Regions from separate parts of the Homo sapiens genome. Here regions 1 and 2 are each linked to region 3. The links come from fine-mapping of genetic effects on gene expression. A gene starts in region 3. Each other region holds a variant in brackets. All regions are shown on one strand. Distances are from middle to middle.

Region 1 (8,188 bases), 38 kb after region 3:
AACAATATGAATAAACAAAACCCACAGCATTCTTAGCACTAGCTGAGTTTTATTAGTTTCACTTAGTGTATTAATAGACTAACACTCATTTTAAATAAAAAATTATCTCTTATACTATAGAACACATCTGTTCGATTTCAAAACAGTCAGATTTCTTCAGGAACCCAGGTAGAAAAATACAAGAAAAATTATCTTCCAATGCAAGGTAAGAGGCTGCATGATCTTTTTATAAAACATTTCAGAATGTAAGGAATAAACAATTTATACCCAACTTAATAAAACATTTCTTAATAAATGTTTTTGAACATTTGAATGAATTTGAATTAATAAATGTAATTGAAGCTCCTGTGCATCATCTTATTCCGCCAGTTAATTTCTACCCTGATAATGGTCCATGCTTCGGTTTTAAATTATTTTACCTTGTTGCGTTCATAAATTGTTATACTGGTCGAGCATCCCAAATCTGAAACTTTTTGAGGGCAAGCATGATGCTCAAAGGAAACATTCATTGGAGCATTTTGAATGTGGATTAAGGATGCTCAACCAATAAGTATTTGCAAATATTCCAAAACTTGAAAAAAAAATGGAGATCTGCAATACTGCTCCCAAGCATTTCTGATAAGGGACACTCACCCTGTAGTATTGTTTCATATTCTGTGTGTCCTTCTGCAATTTTTTTCTTTCAATACTGTATGACTTACCAATCTTAACACATAAAACCTCCAGTTGATTGATTTTAATAGCTATGTAGATTGCATTGTATACTTCCACAGTTCAGCATTCCTGGTGATGGGCAATTAGGTTTGCATGATAATGAATAGGGCTGCAGAGCGTGTCTTGATCCTGTGGCTTCTCTAGGATATATATGAAGAGTAAGATGCCAGGCCATGTCAGCTGGAGGTTTTCCCTTTGCTCTGCAACATGGTTGTACCAGTTTTTTTTACTGTCAGCAGAGTATGCTCTTCATACTTGCAAACACTTGATCTGGCCAGACTTTAACATTTTGGCCAGTTGATGTAAAATGGTGGTTGATTCCGTGAGCTGGTAAGGCCCTGTGAGCATGTTTTCTTACATTTAGTCAGCATTTGAGGTTCCCCTTTTGTGAACTGCCTGTTCATTTCCTTTGTCCATTTAAAATTTTGGATGTGTGTGTGTGTGTTTCTCCTTATAAAATATTCCGCATAGTAATCCTTTGTCAGTTACAAGCACTGCTAATATTTTCTCCCAATCTGGGTTTGGCTTTTCAGTTTGTGTTTTTTTTAATGTATGTTTTTCCTTGTAATGTTGAATTTACTAGTCTTTTAAAATAGTTTTTGGTTTTCATGACTTTAATTCTTCTCAATCCTCAGGCCACAAGTACACCATTTTCTTCTATGCGCTTTTGCATTCACATCTTGAGTTTTTAATCTGGAATTTTAAAAAATTATTTTTGTGAAATAAATTTAGTAAAGATATATGCAGTTTGACAATTAGAAAGCAAATACTCGGGTTACCACCACCTACGTAAAGACATAGATGAGTGGCAGCCCGGAACTGCCCTCTGTGGAGCCCGTGGCTTTTCTTGATGGCACTCTCATTTTCTCATGCTCTGCTTTACTGCGCCTCACACAAACTGTGGTTTTTGGAGACAGAAGACTTGCAGCAACTCTGCACTGAGCAAGTCTGTTGGTGCCATTTTTCCAACAGCATGTGCTCACTTTGGTAGTATACCTTAGCAGTCCCCAACCTTTTTGGCATCAGGGACCAATTTTGTGGAAGACAATTTTTCCATGGACTGGGGTAAGGGGCATGGCTTTGGGATGATTCAGCACCACATTAAATTTATTGTGCACTTTAATTCTAATATTATTACATTGTAATGTATAATGAAATAATTATACAACTCACCATAATGTAGAATCAGGGGGAGCCCTGAGCTTGTTTTCCTGCAATTAGATGGTCCCATCTGGGGGTGATGGGAGACAGTGACAGATCATCAGGCATTAGATACTCTAAGGAGCGTGCAACCTGGATCCCTCGCATATGCAGTTCACAATAGGGTTCTTGCTCCTATGAGAATCTAATGCCACTGCTGATCTGACAGGAGGTGGAGCTCAGGTGGTAATGCGAGTGATGGGGAGCTGCTGTAAATACAGATGAAGCTTCGCTGGCTCGCCCACCCGCTGCTCATCTCCTGCTGTGTGGCCCAGTTCCTACAGGCCACAGACCAGTATACCGTGGGGTTTGGGGCCCCCTGGTATAAGTGGTATACTTATAATCTACATAAATTGCAAATCAGTATCTTCTCCTAGTTCATGGCTTGTCTTTTTGCTCTTTATAGTATCTTTTGATGAACCTAAATTCTTAAAGTAGTTCAATTTCAGTTTTTCCCTTTGGGCAGTGCTTCTTAATTCTTTCCCTATCTTGGGGTCATAAACATCCCTCCCCTAGTATCTACCCAGCTATTCCAGCACTGTGTATTCCCTAGCTTCCACTGTCCCCAGTTTTCCTGTTGTAGGTATTTTTAAGGTGGGTTCACACAGTCCTCTAGACAGTGTGCTTGCACCTGGAGCCTGTCTATGCCCACGGTCACCTCTCGTTATCCTGCCCAGTTGGTAGATACTTTGGGGGTTCAAGTTAATGTTAGTTCATAATCAGCCTGGGAAGAATTAAACTTGATATATAGTGGGTTTGAATCCTGGTTCTGCCTTTTATTAGTTGACAACCTTAGTAGGTTATTTAACCACTTAGCCTTGGTTTTCTTGCCATAAAATGGGAATAATATTCTAGTCTTTTCTCTAAAGGTGGTTATGAGAAATGATGTCACACAGCTTTAGTTATAGTTTAGTTTGCACACATAACCTGTGGGGGTGAAGCATGACATTCTTGTGTCATCCCAAACAGAGCACTCCTGCTATCCCCAGAGCCTTGTCTGCCATCTGCCCCTTTGCTCAAGCCTAAACCCCTGTGTACTCCCAGTACTTTTTCTGTTATCCTTCACCATCCACTCCCAGTAGTCCCTAGACTGATCCCTCTGATGTTATTTTCTGGATCTATTAGTTACATTGAATCATATGAAATTGCTGATGTGTGGCAGTTTGGGACCTATAAATCAGTGATTTCCCATGGTGTAATGGAACCATTCCTGTCTCACAGGCACAGCACAGCCGCCTCACACGCCCAGCAGCTTGTTGGCTGACCACCTGCCTCCGCTCTCCTCCTTCAGGCCATTCTCCCGTAACATCCAGCTC[T/C]GTTACACTTTTTAACATGGAGGTCAGATTCTGGCACTTGCTCGAGACCCTTCCAAGTTGAGTGTTTACAATATGATCCATTGGCACATAGGATGAAAATACTGGCACTTCAGTGTATTTTTAGAGAGAGATTCACCTCACTTTGTTGTTGGTGGGGGCGTGTTTATTTTGTAATGTATATGTTGCTGGTACAGTATGTGATTGGTGTGCTGGACATATTACAAAAAGTTTATACCATAGCCACAAGGGCATTTATGTTTTAACTAAATACCCAGTTATTTGGTGAAGCCAAATTCCACAGGTCTTAGATGCCTCTTTTATCTGCACCTTACACCTTGTGATTGTCTCTGAAATACATTTGGGTCTGTCAGGCTGTTTCATCACCTGTCTCTTCCCCAGGATTGTAAACTCTGAGACAAGATACTGTCTTTCTTGGACATCTAGGACTTAAGTACCTGTGTCGGAGAACTACAAATTAGTAAAGAAAAATATTAAGACATCCTTAACTAATGGATAAAGGACAGCAGTTCACAGGATATGAACTAAGGAAATGTGTGATCATACTAATAAAATTTTCAATTAAATATTAAATCTAACTCTTGACAATTTTATTCTAATAGGCAATCCACCTCGAAGATCCAAGTCTGCACCTCCTCGTGATTTAGGCAATTTGGATAAGGGACAAGTAAATCTCTGTTTTTATATATTCTTCAAACATACATTACTTAGGCTTGAAATCAATTTGTTAATAGACTTAACGTTTCTAAACCACGTGTAAAAAAGAGTTTTTACTTAACATTATAAATGTTATATTTTGTAAACACTAGTCCTAGAACCCTATATCAGAATCTGGCTTTGGAAGTAAGAGTAGGTTTTAGCTGCTTGAAATGTGTTGTGCTTACAGGCTGCCTCTCCCAGGGAGCCACTTGAACCACTGAACTTCCCAGATCCTGAATATAAAGAGGAGGAGGAAGACCAAGACATACAGGGAGAAATCAGTCATCCTGATGGAAAGGTTAAAAAATGTTTTTGAAATAATGAATTCTATAAAAAATAAACATGGGTTAAAATAGTTGAAACACATAGAATCTAAAATAAGGGCTCTTTGGACAAGATGCCTTTAGTTGCCATTTCTCGTTCAGAGATTCAGCAAAAGGCGGCATACAATCTCTGTATGATCTTTGTTCTTACTCCAAAGCCTTTGTAATCCTTGGCACTTCTTAAAAGCTTCTGTTCATTCTAGGTCTTCCTTTCTTGCAGCCTTTCTTATACTGATCCTGAGTCAGGGACCTCTCTCCTCATCTCCAGCTAGCACAGTTTTATTCTTATGCTTAGGAAAGTTTCTTAGTGGGAAAACTGCCTGGGGGTTCCAGCTAAAGGGAATGAGGAAGAAAGGGATATATACAGGTTAGAGGTGATGAGGGAATTTTTTCCTCAGGTTTATGGAAAATTTACTTTTCGAATACCTAATCTGGTCCATTTCTATTGAAATTATAGGGTTGGAGTGCTATCCTTGAGGAATGAGAGAAGGACAAAGAACAACAGGCAAAGCAGTAGTTAGACTTTCCTGTACAAAGTCTACTTTAGGGTAACAAATTGTTGATAAGGGAAGGTTTTCTTTTTTAGGTAAATTCCAGCTAATACATGGAAAAGGAATGAGAAAATTAGAAAATCACGAGTTTGCTACTCCTCACGAAATAAAGGATCTTTTGAGGGAATGTTTTACATTTTATTACAAAAAATTTCAAAGTAGGCAGTTGGGAGGAGAATTAGCCATACTTTCGTCAGGAGAAAATCTTAGGTGATAATCTTGTGTTGGTTTTTTAGGTGGAAAAGGTTTATAAGAATGGGTGCCGTGTTATACTGTTTCCCAATGGAACTCGAAAGGAAGTGAGTGCAGATGGGAAGACCATCACTGTCACTTTCTTTAATGGTGACGTGAAGCAGGTCATGCCAGACCAAAGAGTGGTATGTTTCCAGAGGTGTTCTCCTCCATAGTTTAACCATCTCTGGAGAAAAGGCAGACTGACTGTGTGTCTTTACAGATCTACTACTATGCAGCTGCCCAGACCACTCACACGACATACCCGGAGGGACTGGAAGTCTTACATTTCTCAAGTGGACAAATAGGTACAAACTTGCTCCACCCTCTCATTAAATTCTTCCCTTCCTTCAAAAAATATTTACTGTAACAACTTTTTAAACAGAAAAACATTACCCAGATGGAAGAAAAGAAATCACGTTTCCTGACCAGACTGTTAAAAACTTATTTCCTGATGGACAAGAAGAAAGCATTTTCCCAGATGGTACAATTGTCAGAGTACAACGGTATGGCAACATTATGTTCACAGAAAAACCACTCAGTGTGACACCTGTTCATCTGTGCTCAGAAGGTGCCCCAGCCTTGCGTTTCTGATGATATGTGACACCCATATTAGGGGGTTCAGTTTGAATGAATGTCCCACAGGCATGTCAGTCAACTTGATGTGAATTATTTTTCACATTCTCCTTTTTTGTTCCATTCTTTCAAAACAGATTTTTAAGTCTGATCATGCCCCTTCCCAGGAATAACTAACTCTCTTCCCCACCTGATACAGAGCAAACAAACACTCAGATGGTTTTTAAATTAGTGAAAGAAGGGTCCCTTTTAATATAACAACCAAAAGGAAGAACACAAGTTGAAAAAAGTTACTAAGCATTTTGTGATGAAAATATGAATGATTAAAACAATGCTAATCTGATAATTGGAACTATCACCATGAAGCAGAAACACTGTAGAAAGTTACAATTGTATAGGGATAACCAAGGGATGTCTCCAGAAGTAGCTGCCAGACTCAAAAGGCTACTTTTCAGTAGTTTTTCTGTTGTTTATTTTCTATTATTTTTTTTTTAAGAAATCATATTTTTTTTAAATTTTACAGTGATGGCAACAAACTCATAGAGTTTAATAATGGCCAAAGAGAACTACATACTGCCCAGTTCAAGAGACGGGAATACCCAGATGGCACTGTTAAAACCGTATATGCAAACGGTCATCAAGAAACGAAGTACAGATCCGGTCGGATAAGAGTTAAGGACAAGGAGGGTAATGTGCTAATGGACACGGAGCTGTGACGATCCTCATGTGATCATGAAGTAACAGTAACTGACTTTTTATGTTAAAAAATGTACATTTACTGTGGATTCTGTTTAATTTATTGTGTATGTGTGGGGAAAAGATTAGATTCTAAAATAAAAGTTTACCCTGTGGCATCTTCATTTTTATATTCTTTGAAATGCAATGATAGCTCTCATTTATAATTCACTACCCTGTCTTTCAATAGACTAAGGAAAGCATTTTGACTGTTTAGAAATTGTGTACAGGTTTTTACAGTAAGTGGGTGTGTTTATTGGTTAGAAATGGCTATAAAAAAAAACCAAGAAGTACAGGAAGTACATCACCTAGATGTCCCACAGACACATCAGCCGTAGAGCACTGGACTTGTACAGAAGGTGTACTCAAGGAGTAAACACGTGTCTCTGTAGCCAAAATATTACTATGTTCAGTTAGTACCAAAATTAGACCATTTGATCTTCTACAGAGGATCATTAATTATTATAACAGAATGGGAAGTTACAACAGTGGATGAATATAAATAGGTCACACACAACAGGTAGTAATCATGGTGAAGAGAAAGCAGTTATAACAAGGCTGACTTTGTAATGTAATGTCTCAAAATGGGATACTTGAGAGTGGAGGGGGGCATGAACGATGACTAGCCAGTGTTAACCCATGGACCACAGCTACCCTGATGTTACCACAGTGAGATTACTGTAGCCTCATGGAAGCAAGATGTCCCTGAAGGATGGGCAAGTCACTTACTTACTTACTTGTAAATTTATATAATAAATAATTACAGATTGGTCTAGATAGACCTTACCTGTCACATATACTATGAATCAGGTTTTGTTAATGAAATCTATCAATTCCAGGTGACTTAACTGAATATGAAAAATAAAACTTTTTGAAGAATATAAGTACAGATGTATCTATATATAGATGTATCTATATATCTATCTATATAGATGTATCTATATCTATCTATATAGATGTATCTATATATCTATATAGATGTATCTATCTATATAGATGTATCTATCTATATAGATGTATCTATCTATATAGATGTATCTATATATCTATATAGATGTATCTATATATATAGATGTATCTATATATCTATATAGATGTATCTATATATCTATATAGATGTATCTATATATCTATATAGATGTATCTATATATCTATATAGATGTATCTATATATCTAGATGTATCTATATATCTAGATGTATCTATATATCTATATAGATGTATCTATATATCTATATAGATGTATCTATATATCTATATAGATGTATCTATATATCTATATAGATGTATCTATATATCTATATAGATGTATCTATATATCTATATAGATGTATCTATATAGATAGATATCTAGATATATAGAGACGGGGTTTCACCATGTTGGCCAGGCTGGTCTCAAACTCCTGACCTCAAGTGATCTAGATAATCTAGATAGATATATCTGTATACCTAGATAATCTATATAGATATCTATAATCTAGATAGATATATATAGGTTATCTAGATATATCTATCTAGATATATCTCTAGATTATAGATAGCTATGTAATCTAGATAGATATATCTATATATCCTTACCTCTCCTGAGATATCTCTAGAATATACCTATATATAGATATCTACAGATACATAGATGATATATTCTAGAGATATCTCAGGAGAGGTAAGGATTTTTAAATGAGACAAAAAACACAAACCTTAAAGGAAAAGGTTGATAGGCCAGGCATGGTGGCTCACACCTGTAATCCCAGCACTTTGGGAGGCCAAAGTTGGCAGATCACTTGAGGTCAGGAGTTCGAGACCAGCCTGGCCAACATGATGAAAC
Region 2 (8,188 bases), 31 kb before region 3:
AATTCAATTAGATAATATATATAAAGTTTCTTTGTGAACTATAAATCACTAAATAAGTGTTATATGTGATAATTATCAGGCCTCTTTTTCACATAGGAAATGCCCCACCATATTTTTCAACAACTTCTTTCTTATTTCTTTGGCTCGAGCTCTGAAGATATAATAGCCCTAATGTAATACCTGAGCTTTTTTCCATCAGTAGCTTGACCAGCAGACTTCATTCCAAATAAACTGGGTCATCCCTTTTGGCTCTTGGAACACAACTCTAATTTAGTTATTTGGTTATAACTAACCAAATAACTTATTTCTTTCTTTCCTTCCTTTCTTCCTTTACTTTTTTTTTTTTTTTCTTGAGCCAGGGTCTTATTCTGTCACCCAGGCTGTAGCGCAGTGGCATGATCATGGCTCACTGTAGCCTCAACCTCTTGAGCTCAAGCAATCCCCCAATTTTTTTTTATGTTTTGAAGAGGCTGGGACTTGCTATGTTGCCCAGGCTGGTCTCAGACTCCTGGGCTCAAGCAACCTGTCCACCTCAGCCTCGCAATGTGCTGGGATTATAAACATGAGCCACACTGCCTGATATTGTTTGTTGTTGTTTTTCCAATTTTTTTTCTTTTCTTTTTGTTTTTTGAGACAGAGTTTTGCTCTTGTTGCCCAGGCTGGAGTGCATTGGCACAATCTCGGCTCACCACAACCTCTGCCTCCTGGGTGCAAGCGATTCTCCTGCCTCAGCCTCCCAAGTAGCTGGGATTACAGGCATACACTACCACGCCTGGCTAATTTTGTATTTTTAGTGGAGATGGGGTTTCTCCGTGTTGGTCAGGCTTGTGGGCAAAAGAAAGAGAGATCAGACTGTTACTGTTTCTACATAGAAAGAAGTAGACATAAGAGACTCCATTTTGTTCTGTACTAAGAAAAATTCTTCTGCCTTGAGATGCTGTGCTGGCAGAAACATGTGCTGTGTTGACTCAAGGTTTAATGGATTTAGGGCTATGCAGGATGTGCTTTGTTAAACAAATGCTTGAAGGCAGCATACTTGTTAAAAGTCATCACCACTCCCTAATCTCAAGTACCCAGGGACACAAAACACTGAGGAAGGCTGCAGGAACCTCTGCCTAGGAAAGCCAGGTATTGTCCAAGGTTTCTCCCCAGGTGATAGTCTGAAATATGGCTTCCTGGGAAGGGAAAGATCTGATCGTCCTGCAGCCCGACACCCATAAATGGTCTGTGCTGAGGAGGATTAGTGAAAGAGGAAGGCCTCTTTGCAGTTGAGATAAGAGGAAGGCATCTGTCTCCTGCTCCTCCCTGGGCAATGGAATGTCTCAGTGTAAAACCCGATCGTATATTCCATCTACTGAGATAGGAGAAAACTGCCTTAGGGCTGGAGGTGAGACATGCTGGTGGCAATACTGCTCTTTAATGCACCAAGATGTTTGTGTATGTGCACATCAAAGCACAACACCTTTTTCTTAACCTTGTTTATGATACAGAGACATTTGTTCACATGTTTTCCTGCTGACCCTCTCCCCACTATTACCCTATTGTCCTGCCACATCCCCCTCTCTGAGATGGTAGAGATAATGATCAATAAATACTGAGGGAACTCAGAAACTGGTGCCAGCGTGAGTCCTCCCTTTGCTGAGCGCTGGTCCCCTGGGCCCACTTTTCTTTCTCTATACTTTGTCTCTATGTCTCTTTCTTTTCTCAGTCTCTCATCCCACCCAAGGAGAAACACCCACAGGTGTGGAGGGGCAGGCCACCCCTTCAAGGCTGGTCTCAAACTCCCGACCTCAGGTGATCTGCCCACCTCAGCCTCACAAAGTGCTAGGATTACAGGCATGAGCCACCATTCCTGGCCCATTTTTCTAATTTCTACTTTGCATTATTGCTGGTCTTTTTCCCTCCGTTTGGACTAGAGTCTATTTTCAGAGCTCTTCTTCGTTTATCTAAACTGCTTCATGCCCAATTCAATTTCTACCTCCTTAATGAAATTTTTGCATTCTGTACCTTCTGTTAACTAGCCCCTAATAGTGCATAACAGCACACCCAGTCTTTATCATACAGATTAAGTTATGTACCATTCTACTATTGTTTCTTATGTGTACAGCTCCCAAAAGGGGCCAACTGAGTCTGCACCTCCTTTTGTGTTTTCCACAGGGCCTAGCATAGACCTTTCTTACTGTGGGTGCCTTTATTTATATGAGAGTGAGTCAAAGAAATAGTATCTTGAGCTATCTTTGGTCACTCCATCCAGCAGCCTGCATTGGTCAAGTTCAAAGATCCCATTGACAAACACAAGAGTTCTGATAAAACATGATGAGCAGGGGGACCCCACCCTCCCTCTCCCTTGGGAGGGGCATGCAGGCCCAACCCCCAAGTGTTACAGACCCCCGTTGTTATTTTTAAATTTAGAAAATAAAAAACCATGATGAGTTACGCATTGCTTTTTGAATGTCAATGCTAGCTTTAAAATTGAGCTTCTTAATATATTCTCAAAAAAGGCCCTAACACATGAAAATCAAATGACACACATTAAATGATAATATTTAATTGATTAAAGTCTAATAGAAAATTCAATACTTTTGAAAAGTGCCTCATGACCAGGCACAGTGGCTCATGCCTGTAATCCCAGCACTTTGGGAGGCCGAGGCAGGTGGATCACGAGGTCAAGAGATCGAGACCATCCTGGCCAACATGGTGAAACCCTGTCTCTACTAAAAATACAAAAATTAGTTGGGTGTGGTGGCACATGCCTGTAGTCCCAGCTACTTGGGAGGCGGAGGCTGGAGAATCAATTGAACCCAGGAGGCGGAAGTTGTAGTGAGCCGAGATCATGCCACTGCACTCCAGCCTGGTGACAGAGTGAGACTCTGTCTCAAAAAAAAAAAAAAAAAAAGAAAAGTGGTTCATGATAACACTCAAACATGTTGGCCTTTAAAAGACATAAACAACAGGCCGGGTGCAGTGGCTCATGCCTGTAATCCAGCACTTTGGGAGGCCCAGGCAGGCAGATCACTTGAAGCCAGGAGTTTGAGACCAGCCTGGCTAATATAGTGAAACCCCATCTCTACTAAAAATTCAAAAATTAGCTGGGTATGATGGCATGTGCCTATAGTCCCAGCTACTCGGGAGGCTGAGGCACAAGAATCACTTGAACCTGGGAGACAGAGGTTGCCGTGAGCCGAGATCACGCCACTGCACTCCAGCCTGGGTGACAGTGAGACTCTGTCTCAAAAAACAAAAAACAAACGAAAACACACACACACACACACACACAATAGTATTGCAACTAGAAAAGATTATTAATAATTATTTATGCATGTAGTGATTGGGCTGTGAGACCAAAAGTACTTGATAAATATAGGAAGTCATGATAAGTGAAAAGGACCTTTTGTTATCGTTATCTAGGTTTGTAGTTCTCAATTCCATGTGTTCATTCACAGATACTGCATGACATTGAAACAGCCGGTGTATTAACTAATGTATATGACAGTCCACCTCTGTATGATGATGTGAAAGTGCAATTTTTCTCTTCAGTGAGTAATCACAAAATAGCCTCTGCCATTGTTCTTGTCTGGTCTAATGATTTTATTTAAGATTTGCTTTACTACAATTCCAAACAAGGGAGGGGGAGGGGGAAGAAAACAATAAATTAGATCTATAACAAATTTTTTGAAAGAAAATATGTAATTTGAATAATTTTTGTTCATTTGTTTTTTTCTAAATTGTAAATTTTCTAAATTTTTCTAAATTTACATGTATTCTCAAATACAAAAAATACAAAATAAACACAAAAAAAGTAAAAGCCAAGATGCTAAAAAAAAAAAAACCCAAAGGTACGTTTTACTGCATAGCAATGATTACATTTTGTTTTGCATCTTTTTTAAAAAATTAAGAAGTTGAGACAGGGTCTCACTCTGTCACCCAGGCTGGAGTGCAGTGGCATGATCATAGCTAACTGTAGCTTCAACCTCCTGGGCTCAAGCAATCCTCCCACCTCAGCCTCCTTAGTAGCTGGGAGCACTGACTGGAAAGAGAGTTAGGTTTGGGCGACTCAGTTGGGTGAAACACAGAGAAGGCAGCACAATACAACACAAGAAATAACCAAAGCAGTTTTTTATTAATTCCAGAGAGAAGAGGGCAGCACACTTCGCAGGGGCAACTGGAAGAGGGAGCCATCCAGGAGACCTGTGCTTGACTGATGGGTGGGAGCAATAGCGAGAGA[C/G]AGGGAGGGACCTGAGAGTGGAAGCCTTTATTGGGATGTAAGGTGCGACCTGAGTAGGTTTCCTGCAGGGAGGTCTAATTTGGTTTAACGCAAGCAGCCATGAGTCTCTGCTGTGGCTGAGAGGTGGTCACTAATATATCCACGTGGTCCCTGCAGAGTATGGGGGTCTGTTGGGTGAGTCAAGTAGGTTATATCTAGCTGTCCCATAATGAAGGGGTCACCAGGAGAAGATTGTATAAGGCAGATATCAGGATCAGTCACATGGAGAAACTGGGAGGAGGTGAACTGGAAACTGCTGAGGGTGACTGAACCCCGCTTCTGATATCAGAAAAGTCCTGACATCAGAAAGTCCAGTTTATATTTAAAAGGGATGCTGAGGCAACAAAAAAATTATAAGAATTCACTACAATCTAGTTGGGTATATATAGGCATAGGTCCTTAGTAGAGTCTGTTTGGCACTATCTAAACCAGATTCAAATAGCAGCATTTAAATTAAATACCTATCATGGAAAAAATACTATTCCTTGAAAATTTTGATAGAAACAGTAAGAGAATGCAATAGCATTTTCTTAAAGCTTCCTCCTTTGTGTCTTGAGTGTATTGTTATAGATTGCAGAGTGCTACATATTTAATGGTTATAATTGTTTGATAAATATAAAAAGGAATAAAGGAAGGAACTTTAATTTCTTTGGAATGATTAGTTCTTGGTATCAGTTTTACTTTGAAATTTTTTTTAGAACCTTCCTAAGTACTGTGACAATTGTTCATTTTTCTTCTGGTTCAACACATCTTTTATTCAAAATAACAGGTATGAATATAATATAAACCCATAGAAACAGCCTAATCTTCAATGTCTATATACAAGGCATAATGGCAAGTCTTTTGCTGGTTGTCATAAACTTAATTTATAGAAAGCAAAAAATCCTTGAGCCACCATTGTTCATTGCCTTACTCCTCTTACTCTGGTTATTTTAAAAATACCTTTGTTCTTGAGACCCACTGTTGCAGTATCCTCAAGGTCCATGCCATAGAACTGTGTTATGAGTTCAAAAGTATTACAATCAGATCTTAAGTGTGGTAGTAAATTCCTCTTGGAGAAGTTCAATATGAGTCTGCTCAGCACCTTCAGTATGTCAGGTCCCTGTCAGTAGGTGCTGATTTACCAATGACGAACCACCACCAAATTTTGTGCTAAAGTAAGGCAGGACCTAGGGAGGCTTCAGCTAGATGAAAAGCTGACTGACACACTTATATCTAGGAGAAGTTACAAGACACAGTATTAAGGAATACAGCTAAAAAATATCATTAAGTAATAGTCTATTTAAATAGCCATTCAAATGTGGCTTTCTAATAACTGAATTGGGAAACCTTTCTGAAAAATTATTAATTGGGTTTGGAGATTATTGTTCCAAAAAAACCTTCTACCATATTTGGAAACTCATTTCTCAGTCTAGAAGTTCTCCACTATAAGTAGCATTTGTTTTGTGATGGTGAAAAATTGGGATTTTTTTTTGGTATCAACCATACTCTTCAATACAAAAGGACAAAATATTTTTTAAATGATTTAGGTCAGAATTGAAGAAGTGGCTATGATTATATGTGGCATGAATTGATAGTTATTGTTACATCCAGTCCTAATCTTTTCTTCAAATGTGAACTGGATCGAATAACTCCTTAAGTCCAGCAAGGCAACAGGAAATTAAACCTCTGGTCTACACACTTGCAATGCAAAACATTTAATGGATTTTGATAGAGTGAACTTTGGATTTGACGGAAATTTTTACAAGTTTTTTTTTTTTTGGATGCATACAAACAATAAGCTTTTTCTTCTAACATGAGCAAAGTCCCTCAAAAAGTGAGACCTGGATGTAACTTCACTTGATGCTGCTCCTCGAAAGTGGTTCTTGCTAAAGGATACAGTCTTTTTCCTTTAAAACACTATGTTCATTTTGGAGAAGTGATAAGCTAGATCACTTTTATTCTTACTTTTATATAAATTTCTAAAGATTTCTGTAACATTTACATTTACATACAACTTGGTAAAGCTGTTTTTGTTAGTTATAAGATTGTTGTTTAGCCAAAAATGCTAACTTGTATCATTTAGAACACTAGGCATAAATGGGTTAACCAATTTATGCCTAGTGTTCCATTATTGGAACGCTCAGCATGTGGGAGTTATGTCCTACTGCTCAAGGTCATTTCCAAGGTCTGATTGTAAAAATTCAAAAAATTGCAACTTCACACATAAATTGAAAGAGATATAGTATTTTATTCCTGGGTTTTCATTCATGTCTATCCTGACTGATTTCTGTCACAGAGAGAAATTTAGATATTTTATTAAACTTGGAAGTCATTAATGCCATATAAAGCAATGCTAAGAGAGTCAGCATGTGTTACTGATGTGTTGCTGAAGATTAAAGTATTTTTAAGTCTCACCAAAAAGGTGGAAGGAGCCAACCGAGACACAAAAAAGGAGCTGGGGTTCTATTCATGGTGAGTTTCTTTTTTTTGTTTCTTCCAGCTCTAACGTGGGTACCCAACTGCGTGGCTTTTCGGTGAGCCCCAATATAAAATGTAATAATTTTTTTTCTATTCTTAGGCTTTATCTACCAAGAAATGAATTGGATAATCCACATAAACAAAAAGCTTGGAAAATTTATCCACCAGAATTTGCCGTGGAGATACTTTTTGGTAAGAAATGACTTCCAGTGATGTTGTAGCTGGATCCGATTAAGTACAGCTCCCCCTTCCCCTTCTGGGAAAGAATTATGTTCTTTCCAACCTTGCCACATATTCATATATCCTAAATCTTCCTTGATGATATATTTATATATGTTTATATATGTTCTTCATAAGTCTACTAAATATATATAGATAAAATGTCAGTGTTTTTTTTTTCTTTTTTGAAGGCACATACTTCACAATTTCCATCTTGTATTTACATAAATTTGGAACACAGTATGCAGGAACATCAGACATCATTTTGAAGAACTTTGAAATAGAACTTTCATAGCAAAAACTTGAGATATTTAAAAATTGTAATTCCCCAACCCCCACTTACTTACATATTTTTGGTCAAGTATTTATTCCCTGCTTTGGTTCACATTTGTAATTTCAGATTTATTAGAAAGCTAATTTATATTTTTTCTTCCACTTCATTTACAAACTGTCTGTTAACAGACTGGCAACAAAGACTAAGTTTTAAATCCAGAAGAGAGAAGTGTTTCACACAAGCAGTCCCCCAACTCCCAACACACAGTCTCTCATTCTGAGCACTAACTAGGTAGCTTACTTGACAAGCTTCCTTTAATCACACACAGACATGGGGGTTGGGGTAAGAAGATTGTGGTAAATATGAAGATAAGTAATCTTTGGTAACTTCTGCTTTTGTTTAAAATTGTAAGTGAAGTCAAAAGAAATATTTGTTCTTAGAGTAATCTAGGTGTATTATTTTGAAATTCACTACTCCTGCTCACAATTCACCTAAGCTTGGGAGGACTCTGAAGGGAGGTTATCTTTTCATTATAAACACTGGTTAGCCTTATGTCTACAGGAAATCATTATTTCCTCTTTGGTGCTGGGTGCTACTTTTTTTTTAACAAATTTTTTATTTGTATTTTTTATTTCTTGAGACAGCATCTCACTCTGGTTGTCAAGACTGGAGTGCAGTGGTGTGATCTTGGTTCACTGCAGCCTCAACCTCCCAGGCTCAGTTGATTCTCCCACCTCAGCCTCCCGAGTAGCTGGGACTATAGGCGCATGCCAGCACACCCGGCTAATTTTTTGTATTTTTAGTAGAGACAAGGTTTTGCCGTTGTTGCCCAGGCTGAGCTCAAATTCCTGAACTCAAGCAATCTGCCTGCCTCAGTCTCCCAAAGTGCTGGTATTAAGGCATGAGCCACCACGCCCAGTCCGTGGGTGTTACTTTATTCAAAATACCTTTATTGCCACTGTATCTTCAGG
Region 3 (8,188 bases):
AATGACAAAAAATGGGTGAATTCCAAGGGCTGTCTGCTGGTTCTATATGGCTGGCTTTTAATTGTTCCTCAATTAATTCATGGGTTTGTTGTAATTTCTCTCCCTTTAAAGGTCACCGTTCTACCCAAATTGGATCTTGAGACAGCCATGTCAGGGGTAGGGGAGGACTTACAACAGTGGCCACTATTAGAAAGGGCTCTGCATAGTGACCCCCCCATTGGGCTAATAAGGTCCCATTCCCAAAGATGAACAGGGATGGGCATGATTAGAGGTTGTATAGTTGCTTTTCTTCCCTCCAAATCGTGACTTTAGAGGGCGTGCACTCTGCTTGGCTGTGTGCACTTCTCCAGTGCCGACAATTTTCTGTTTCTGAGTGACCCATATGTTTTACCCAGCCAATTGATTCTGGTTGGTTTGTCATTCACACAACTCATCATATTCTGCCATCCAGAGGAGGTATTGACTGGCCTCTAAAGTTGTTTGAGCTAGCACTGACCTGTCCCATGGGATCATAAGGAAGTTGTCTGCTATGGCCTCAATTAATCCTTTTGTAGATGGGCTAGCAGCTCTGTTTTCTCTAATGCTTTTTCTTATCTCTTTATAGGTGTTGAAAGTGATGGGCTCATATACCTGATTGCCGTGTTGATCTTGCATCACAGGGCAGGCCAAGAGCTCCCCTTCTAATGCCACTTGCCTAAGACAGGGTCCCGTAACTGTAGTGTATCCCTTGTCTTTTTTTCCAATTTATTGGAGGAGGGGGCTCAGGGAAACTCTGTCTCCTCTGTGGCACCTTTACCTAGTAACAGTGGGGCTGAGGGAGGAGGAGGCGGTCAGGTAGGTGGATGGTTCCTCTTCCCTTTCCTTTTTAGGCTCTTTTGTGTAGAGTGGGGCCAAAGCAGCCCTGATTAAGGCCCATAACGTTAAAGATGTTACTGGGACCCGTTTCCCTTGTGCATGATGTTATTTAAGATTTCCCCTCACTTGCTCCCAGAGTTCTTGGTCTAACGTGCCTTCTTCTGGGAACCATGGGTTATTGAAAACAACAGTTTGCATTAGGCCCCTTAACTGAGCCTCCGAGACCCAGGCTCTGCTAGCTTTAAGCAGCTGTTTCAATACTTACATATAGTGTTGCTGTTGAGCTGATAACTGTTGTCCCATGATGAAACCCTAGGTTGAAAATTCCCTCAAACTTGGAAATCCTGAGTGGGCACCAATTACTTACTTCCCGCACAGTCTCTTCACCTCATTTTTGGGGGTTCCATCGTGATCTGTTGCAGCATTCCTCACACAGGGCACCAGTTGCTGGGTCTGTCCCACAGACCCTGGCTGGACGATGGATGAAACGAGTACTCAGACGCAGATATGCAGTGTAAGAGCAGCTAGGGGACTGCTTGGCACTAGCGGCCAAAGAGTGAGCAGGCAAACAGCTGGAGCTGCTTGCTTTTATTCAGTATAGACATAATGCTGAAAGCCTGGAGCAAAAACAATCTGTGGGTAATTAACATTATTGTTCCCCTTTCAGGGAACGGGTCACGCATGTGGATGATCAAAGGTCAGCTCCTGGTCAATGTAAGTAAACAAGCCTATTTACGATAAATTCCCCTATGCTTCCTGGTACCTACTCCTTGCCCTCTGCCTCAGGGTCAGAAAACAGCTGCCTTCAGCTTATTCTCCCTGGAGGCTATGCAGAGGCTTCCGACTTTTCAGAAGGTCTGCTCCTTTCCCTATAGTTTCTCCCACCACTCTGACTGATCTATAGGAATCATTCCTTGGCCAGGCTAGCCCTGATGTCCTCCCCCACTTTTTTTCTTTTTAAGAGTTGGCGGTTTCACTCTGTTGCCCTGGCTGTAGTCTCGTGGTGTGATCATAACCTTCAACTCCTGGGCTGAAGTGATCCTCCTGCCTCAGCCTCCCAAGTATGTAGGGCTACAGGTGCACACCATCATACCTGGCTAACGTTCAAACGTCTAGGCTCAAATTATCCGCTTCAGTCTCCCAAAGTGCTGGGATTACAGGTGTGAGCCACTGCACCTGACATGTCCTCTCTGGATAGAGTGGACACTTGCTACCATCAGACCAGCAATGAAAAGCTGTCAACTCTTTGTCACTCAGATCAACTTTGATTAAAAGAATTATTACCAGCCAAGCACAGTGGCTCATGCCTGTAATTCCAGCACTTTCAGAGGCCAAGGTGAGAGGACTGCTTGAGCCTACGAGTTAGAGACCAGCCTGGGCAACAGAGTGAGACCCCTGTCTCCAAAAAAATAAATAATGAAAAAGAATTATTTCCAAATAATTTGGGAATACAATAAGTATTATTCTGTGTCTGGCACAGCATTTGACAAGACCCACAGAGCTAGGCTTTGGTAGACAAGAGTTCACCAACAGTTAAATTCTTTATAAAGATGAAAACACCTCCTGTTCATTGACTTTTTACTATGTGGAGGTTTTTTGCTACTTTTTCATACATAGTCTTTCTTTTAATGTAATCTTCTTGACAGTCCTATGAAGGTCTCATTATTATCCACCCCTGTTTTGCAGATGAGAAGACTGGTTTCAGAAAAGTTGAGTGCTGAAGACTACAAAGCTGTTTGTAAGTTATCAAGCTAGGATTTGATCCCAGGTCTGCCTGATAAATCCTGGACTCTTAACCATGACATAGGAGTGCCCTCTTGACTCCTATGATGGCATAAAGAATTGTATCAGAACGGGTAATCTGGCATTAAAACCCCTGTGCCACAACCGTTAGTCTAATTTTTCTCTACAGCACCATCTGAAGATGCAACAAGGATAGGAACCACTGATAAGGTAGAACATTTTATTGTCTGGCAGAGTAGAAGATGGAAGTTCCTCCCCACTAGCCTTTCCACCTTGTAATGGATTTGAACCCTTGAAGCTTAGTGGGCAGTTTTGAGAATTACATGGGCTACAGGTGAAAACTTACACATTATAACCTTAATTTAACAGCCAGTTAAGACTTGAGTGTGGTAAAAGATTCATTTATTTATTCAATCAACAAACAATGTGGCACTACATACTATATTAAAATAAAAACATACGAATAAAATATAGGCACAAAAATAGAGGATATTGCGACTATCCTTAAAGATACACATTTTAGGAAGAATGATGAGACTTTTGGGCATGCTTTCAAGCCAAAGGGCTATCATAAATGAAAAGGAAGATTGTTTGGGTCCTTGTCTGGCATCTTAAGTAGCTGTGTGATCTCGGAAGTCTCGGGCTTTAGCTTCCTCACCCACAGTGAAAATTAAAAAGAAAAATTGGGCCGGGCGCGGTGGCTCACGCCTGTAATTCCAGCACTTTGGGAGGCCGAGGCGGGCGGATCACGAGGTCAGAAGATCAAGACCATCCTGGCTAACACGGTGAAACCCCTTCTCTACTAAAAATAAAAATAAAAAAATTAGCCAGGCGTGGTGGCGGGCGCCTGTAATCCCAGCTACTCGGGAGGCTGAGGCAGGAGAATGGCGTGAACCCGGCAGGCAGAGCTTGCAGTGAGCGGAGATCGCGCCATTGTACTCCAGCCTGGGCAACAGAGCGAGACTCCATCTCAAAAAATAAAAATTAAAAAAAGAAAAGAAAAATTGAAAAAAGAAGCAAAACCGAAATCTTGATTTAGAGAAGTAGACTCTTTTTGAAGTAGAAAGCAAAACAAATTTTGGAGGACCAAATTTCTGTGAAATAGTTTTGTCTTTAGCAGTCGTTTGTTTCAGTTATAACGGTTATAAATGGCACTTCATTTGATTTCTTTAAACATTTTACTTGGCCTGCTGTTTAATCAGACATGGAAGCCAGGTATGTAGTACTGTGGTAACTCACGGTGCTGTAACTTCCTAGATTAAAGGGCCGTGGCAGTTAAAACGAAACAAAACAAAAAAATTTCTTGAATTCTGCACTGTCAGTATTCAAACTAGTTTCAGAATCTAATGGACACACTCTGCCAAACCACCGATTAGCCATTTGAGGAGAGATGAAAGATGCCTATTTTTGGAGTGAATTCTCATAGGGTTATTTTCGTCTTACGAAATGGTGTAGCGGACTGCCCTTTTTCTCCTTTACTAAGTCACCTCAGCCAAAGCGGAAAACAAAGAAAAAAACCAAACCAAACCAAAAAAACGACAAAATAGACCGTACGCAAATAGAAAAAAAAAAAACAAAACCCAAAACACCTCCTTTAAGCGTCGGTTGGGCTCTATGTTAGCTTTGACTCTCCGTGCTCCCTGCTTTGCTGGGAACACGGAGATCCATCGCTCCGTTAGGCGTTCCCTTTAGTTTTCTAAGTGTGGGAGCCTGGGGCGACGTCCACCACGGAAGGTCTCTCCCGGAAACGGTTTTCCGCCCCGCCACGCCGCCCGCCTACGTCGACCACTGGCCCGCTGCTGGTCGGAAGGCGGCGCGCAGTCCATCCCCCGCCGGGCAACGCCCGTCGCTGTGGCGTCACTGGGAGTTGTAGTTTCACTGGGCTCAGCGGTGCCTGCGCTTTAGCGCAGACGCGCGGGTGAGATCCTCACTTCCCACAGGACCTCGGGACGGGGGCGGGGCTCCGACAGAGGCGGCGATTGTGGCGGCCCATTTGTAAATGCTGCGGAGATTGAGGTGTCGGTTCGTGCTGCTGAGCTGCCCAGGCTTCACGGAGCGGTAATTTGTGGGCGAAAAGAGCGGAGGAGCTCTTTGTCCGCCGCCCTGCGCCGGAGATGGACGGCGGTGGGCGGGCAGGACTCTGCTCGGACCTCGGGGTTGGCTCGGCGGGGCGAGGAGGGAGCGGGGCGCCGGGACGCGCTCAGGCCCACGGGCGCGCTGAGGCCCACGGCAGTTCAGTGGCTTCGTTCATTCGCGCTGCTTTGTTCTTCGCAGAGCTGGGGAAGCCGGCCTCTCTGGGGTGTCTGTCTCTCTGACCTGGCTGTGGCGGAACTTGAGTTCCTGTGGGCAGCGCGGCAGCCGCAGTCCGCTGGAGCAGGGTGGTGAAGTAGCGTTGCTGGCTGTCCTAAGGGCCGGTCTTGCCCCAGCTTTGTCAAGGGCTTCTCTCTTGAAGCTTCGTGTGGATTCATGGCTTTCAAGAACGTGTTGTATTTTAGGGGACTGCTAAATCACTTCCCAGACCAACTAGTTACTTCTCACGGTCTAAGAGTGGCTTTGAATTTGCTGTTTGTATCCACTCTCCTCCCTCACCGTGCAGAGAATTTATCTTTTTTTCAATACTGCTTTAAAGAATGTTTACATAGCACTTTCTGGAGATTTCAAGGCTGTCAGTTTGTTACATTTTTTAAAAGTTTTATTGAGGTATAATTGCTATACAATAAAAATGGCACATGTTTAAATGCATTCCATTTGATGAGTTTGACATACACGTGCACCCGTGTCCTTCAGATTTTGATATCTGTAAAGTCTGAGTCCACATACTAATCCTATCTCGGCATATATATTATCAATGCTCCCTTTACCAAGACCTCAGTATCAATAATAAGTAGCAGGTTCTGGTGACGCTTTTTTTATACTTCATGCTGACATTAAATATATTTTTAGAATCGCGGTCATGAAATTGAAGGTATAGAAGGTGTGTTTGGTGGGGAGTTGGAGGAGGAGATGCAAAAGTCTGGCTGCTGCATCCCAAGACTGCTTGCACTTGTCAGTCTAGTAGGGAATTTTTCTAGTTTTCCATATTATGAAATGACCTTGTAGTTTGTCTCCCTTCTGAATTTGGATTTCGAAAGATTTTCTGCTAAGGTCATTGAAATTAAGCAAAGTTACGTGGTTGATTTTGAAAAAAAAAAAGTCATTACTTTTTTAGATTGGTTTCCTACTGAAAAACAATTTGCTTAGAAAAAGTTTTTACAAATTATTCAGGAATAACAGATATCCAGTAAAGTGCGCTAATCTTAAGTGTACAGCCTAAGTGTATCCACCCCCTGTATTAACCTTCCCAGTTGTTGAAGTCAAAAATTTGGAGATGAATCTCTTAAGTTTAACGTTTTATTTGGGAAGAAAGAATGGCGGTTCCAGGCGTACAGACCAGGTGGTCTTCAGTATGTCCAAAGAACAAAGAGAAAGCTGGAGGTTTTATAAAAAAGAGAATTGTTATATCTGTCGCTCTTCGAGAAAGTTCATTGGTTCTCCTAAGGTTCTGGGGAGGCAGCAGGTCCTACCGAGTGGGCCATGGTGGAGGGCAAAATTAGTCCTACAATTGCAGCAAGTTACCTCAGCATCTATAGATCAAATTGGTCTCGGGTTACAACCGGCAGTTTCAGCATACTGACTTATAGAGAATTCCATTCTTGGAGCAAAGTTGTGTGTCCTGAGTGCCTTTCCCTCTTGACTTCTTGATTGTTTAGTTGGCTATAAGAATGACTCAATTTGTATGATCAACTTTCACACAGACAGGACAACTCCCATTTTCCTGGATAACGACCAATATGCCATTTATAACTATGGGTTTATTTTGCCTGTTCTTCAGCTTCATATACATGGAAACATGGGCCAGGTGCGGTGGCTCATGCCTGTAATCCCAGCATTTTGGGAGGCTAAGCCAGGTGGATCACTTGAGGTCAGGAGTTTGAGAACAACCTGACTAACATAGTGAAACCCCGTCTCTACTAAAAATACAAAAAAAAAAAAAAGCCAGGTATGGTGGTGCATGCTTGTAGTCCCAGCTACTCTGGAGGCTGAGGTGGGTGAATCGCTTGAACCCGGGAGGCTGAGGTTGCAGTGAGCCAAGATCACACCACTGCACTCTAGCCTGGGCAACAGAGTGAGACTCCATCTCAAAAAAAAAAAAAAAAAAAGGAATCATATTTGTCTGATGTTCACACATCATTATTTATTTTTGTTACTGCCTGTGGCAGCAATTTTTGTTTTTTTAAATGCCTGAATAGCTGTGGTTCTCAAAGTGTGATACAGTGAGAAAATGTACATCACATTGGCATTTTTGTTTTTGGTTATTAAATGGTTGGCAGGCAATCATCTTGTTCCAAGAAAATCTTCAGTTGCAATTAATGGTACAGTAAGCCTTTATACAACTCTTCTACAACTCAACCAGGGAGCGATGGCAAAAACACAGTATCATTATGTTCACTGTCTTCTATGTCTTTTAACAGTTCTATAAACTGGCAGTTGATAGCATTTGTACATACTGAACAATTGTAACAACTATATTCATGATACTATTCGTGGATTATGCTTCAGAAAACCAAACACAAGAATTTTCAATGTGTATTATACAGGGGAATGAATCAGCGAGGGAAACAGCAGTCTCTTGTTGTAAAATCCCATTAAATTCAGATTTTTTGCCTTATAGAATGACACCATCTGTCATGATAGAAACTGATTTTTAGGCTGGGCGCAGTGACTCACACCTGTAATACCAGCACTTTGGGAGGCCGAAGCAGGAGGATGGCTTGAGCCTAGGAGTTCAAGATCAGCCTGGGCAACATAGGGACACCCTGTTTCTACAAAAAAATTAAAAAATAAAAAATAAGCTGGGCATGGTGACACATACCTGTAGGCCCAGCTACTCTGGAGGCTGAGATGGGAGGATCACCTAAGCACTGGAGGTTGAAGCTGCCGTGAGCCGTGATTGTGCCAATGCACTTCAGCCTGGGTGACATTGTGAGACCCTGTCTCAGAAAAAAAGAAAAAAAGTAATGTTTTCATATCTAGCTAAAATTCTTCTGTCAGACATAAAATACTGGGCGCAGGGGCTCACGCCTGTAATCCCAGCACTTTGGGAAGCCAAGGTGGGAGAATGGCTTGAGCCCAGGAGTTTGAGACCAGCATGGGCAACACAGGGGGACCACTCTTTACAAAAAATTAAAAGATGAGCTGGGTGTTGTGGTATATGCCTATGGTCCTGGCTACTCCGGAGGCTTGAGGTGGGAGGATCACTGGGGCCTGGGTGGTAGAGGCTCCACTGAGCCGTGATCATGCCACTGCACTCCAGCCTGGGTGACAGTGAGACCCTGTCTCAAGGAAAAAAAAAAAGATTAAAAAATATCCATGTCACAGGTTCAGTATCAGGCTTTGAATTGATATCATCTCTTTGTAAATTTAGATAATCTGTGAGATAAAACACACCTAAATTGGTGATTGGTCAGTCTCTCATTGCATTACTCAGATAAAGCTAAAGACAAGTGCTTGTAATTTTTTATGGCTTTGAACCTGGATGGTAATAGAAGGG

Direction of the effects. Positions count from the first base shown, and alleles are read on the strand shown. Sizes are in standard deviations (SD) of each study's normalised expression. Not every link is listed here.
For the expression in fibroblasts of the gene that starts at base 4,556 in region 3, allele T in region 1 goes with a higher level than allele C (small effect, 0.26 SD a copy in GTEx).

Evidence for each region. PIP is the estimated chance that this variant, and not a neighbour inherited with it, causes the effect.
Region 1: its variant is fine-mapped to the expression of CPAP in fibroblasts (GTEx, PIP above 0.99).
Region 2: its variant is fine-mapped to the expression of CPAP in prefrontal cortex (ROSMAP, PIP 0.95).

The regions. Positions count from the first base shown.
Region 1 is chr13:24,881,333-24,889,520 of GRCh38, reverse strand. CPAP (centrosome assembly and centriole elongation protein) reads left to right here. Exons shown (of 17, transcript NM_018451.5): 11 at 121-205; 12 at 3,851-3,915; 13 at 4,135-4,245; 14 at 5,058-5,198; 15 at 5,276-5,360; 16 at 5,438-5,558; 17 at 6,152-7,242. The coding sequence ends at 6,344. It also overlaps a transcript of RNF17 not described here. Among named protein-coding and RNA genes, the nearest start is that of CPAP, 37 kb to the left of the region's middle. The variant T/C (reference allele first, on the strand shown) is at 3,231.
Region 2 is chr13:24,950,125-24,958,312 of GRCh38, reverse strand. It overlaps the pseudogene TPTE2P1. Among named protein-coding and RNA genes, the nearest start is that of CPAP, 31 kb to the right of the region's middle. RefSeq lists an enhancer at 677-1,256. The variant C/G (reference allele first, on the strand shown) is at 4,226.
Region 3 is chr13:24,919,229-24,927,416 of GRCh38, reverse strand. It overlaps CPAP (centrosome assembly and centriole elongation protein), which reads left to right and starts at 4,556. Exons shown (of 17, transcript NM_018451.5): 1 at 4,556-4,656. RefSeq lists enhancers at 3,609-4,510, 4,511-5,412.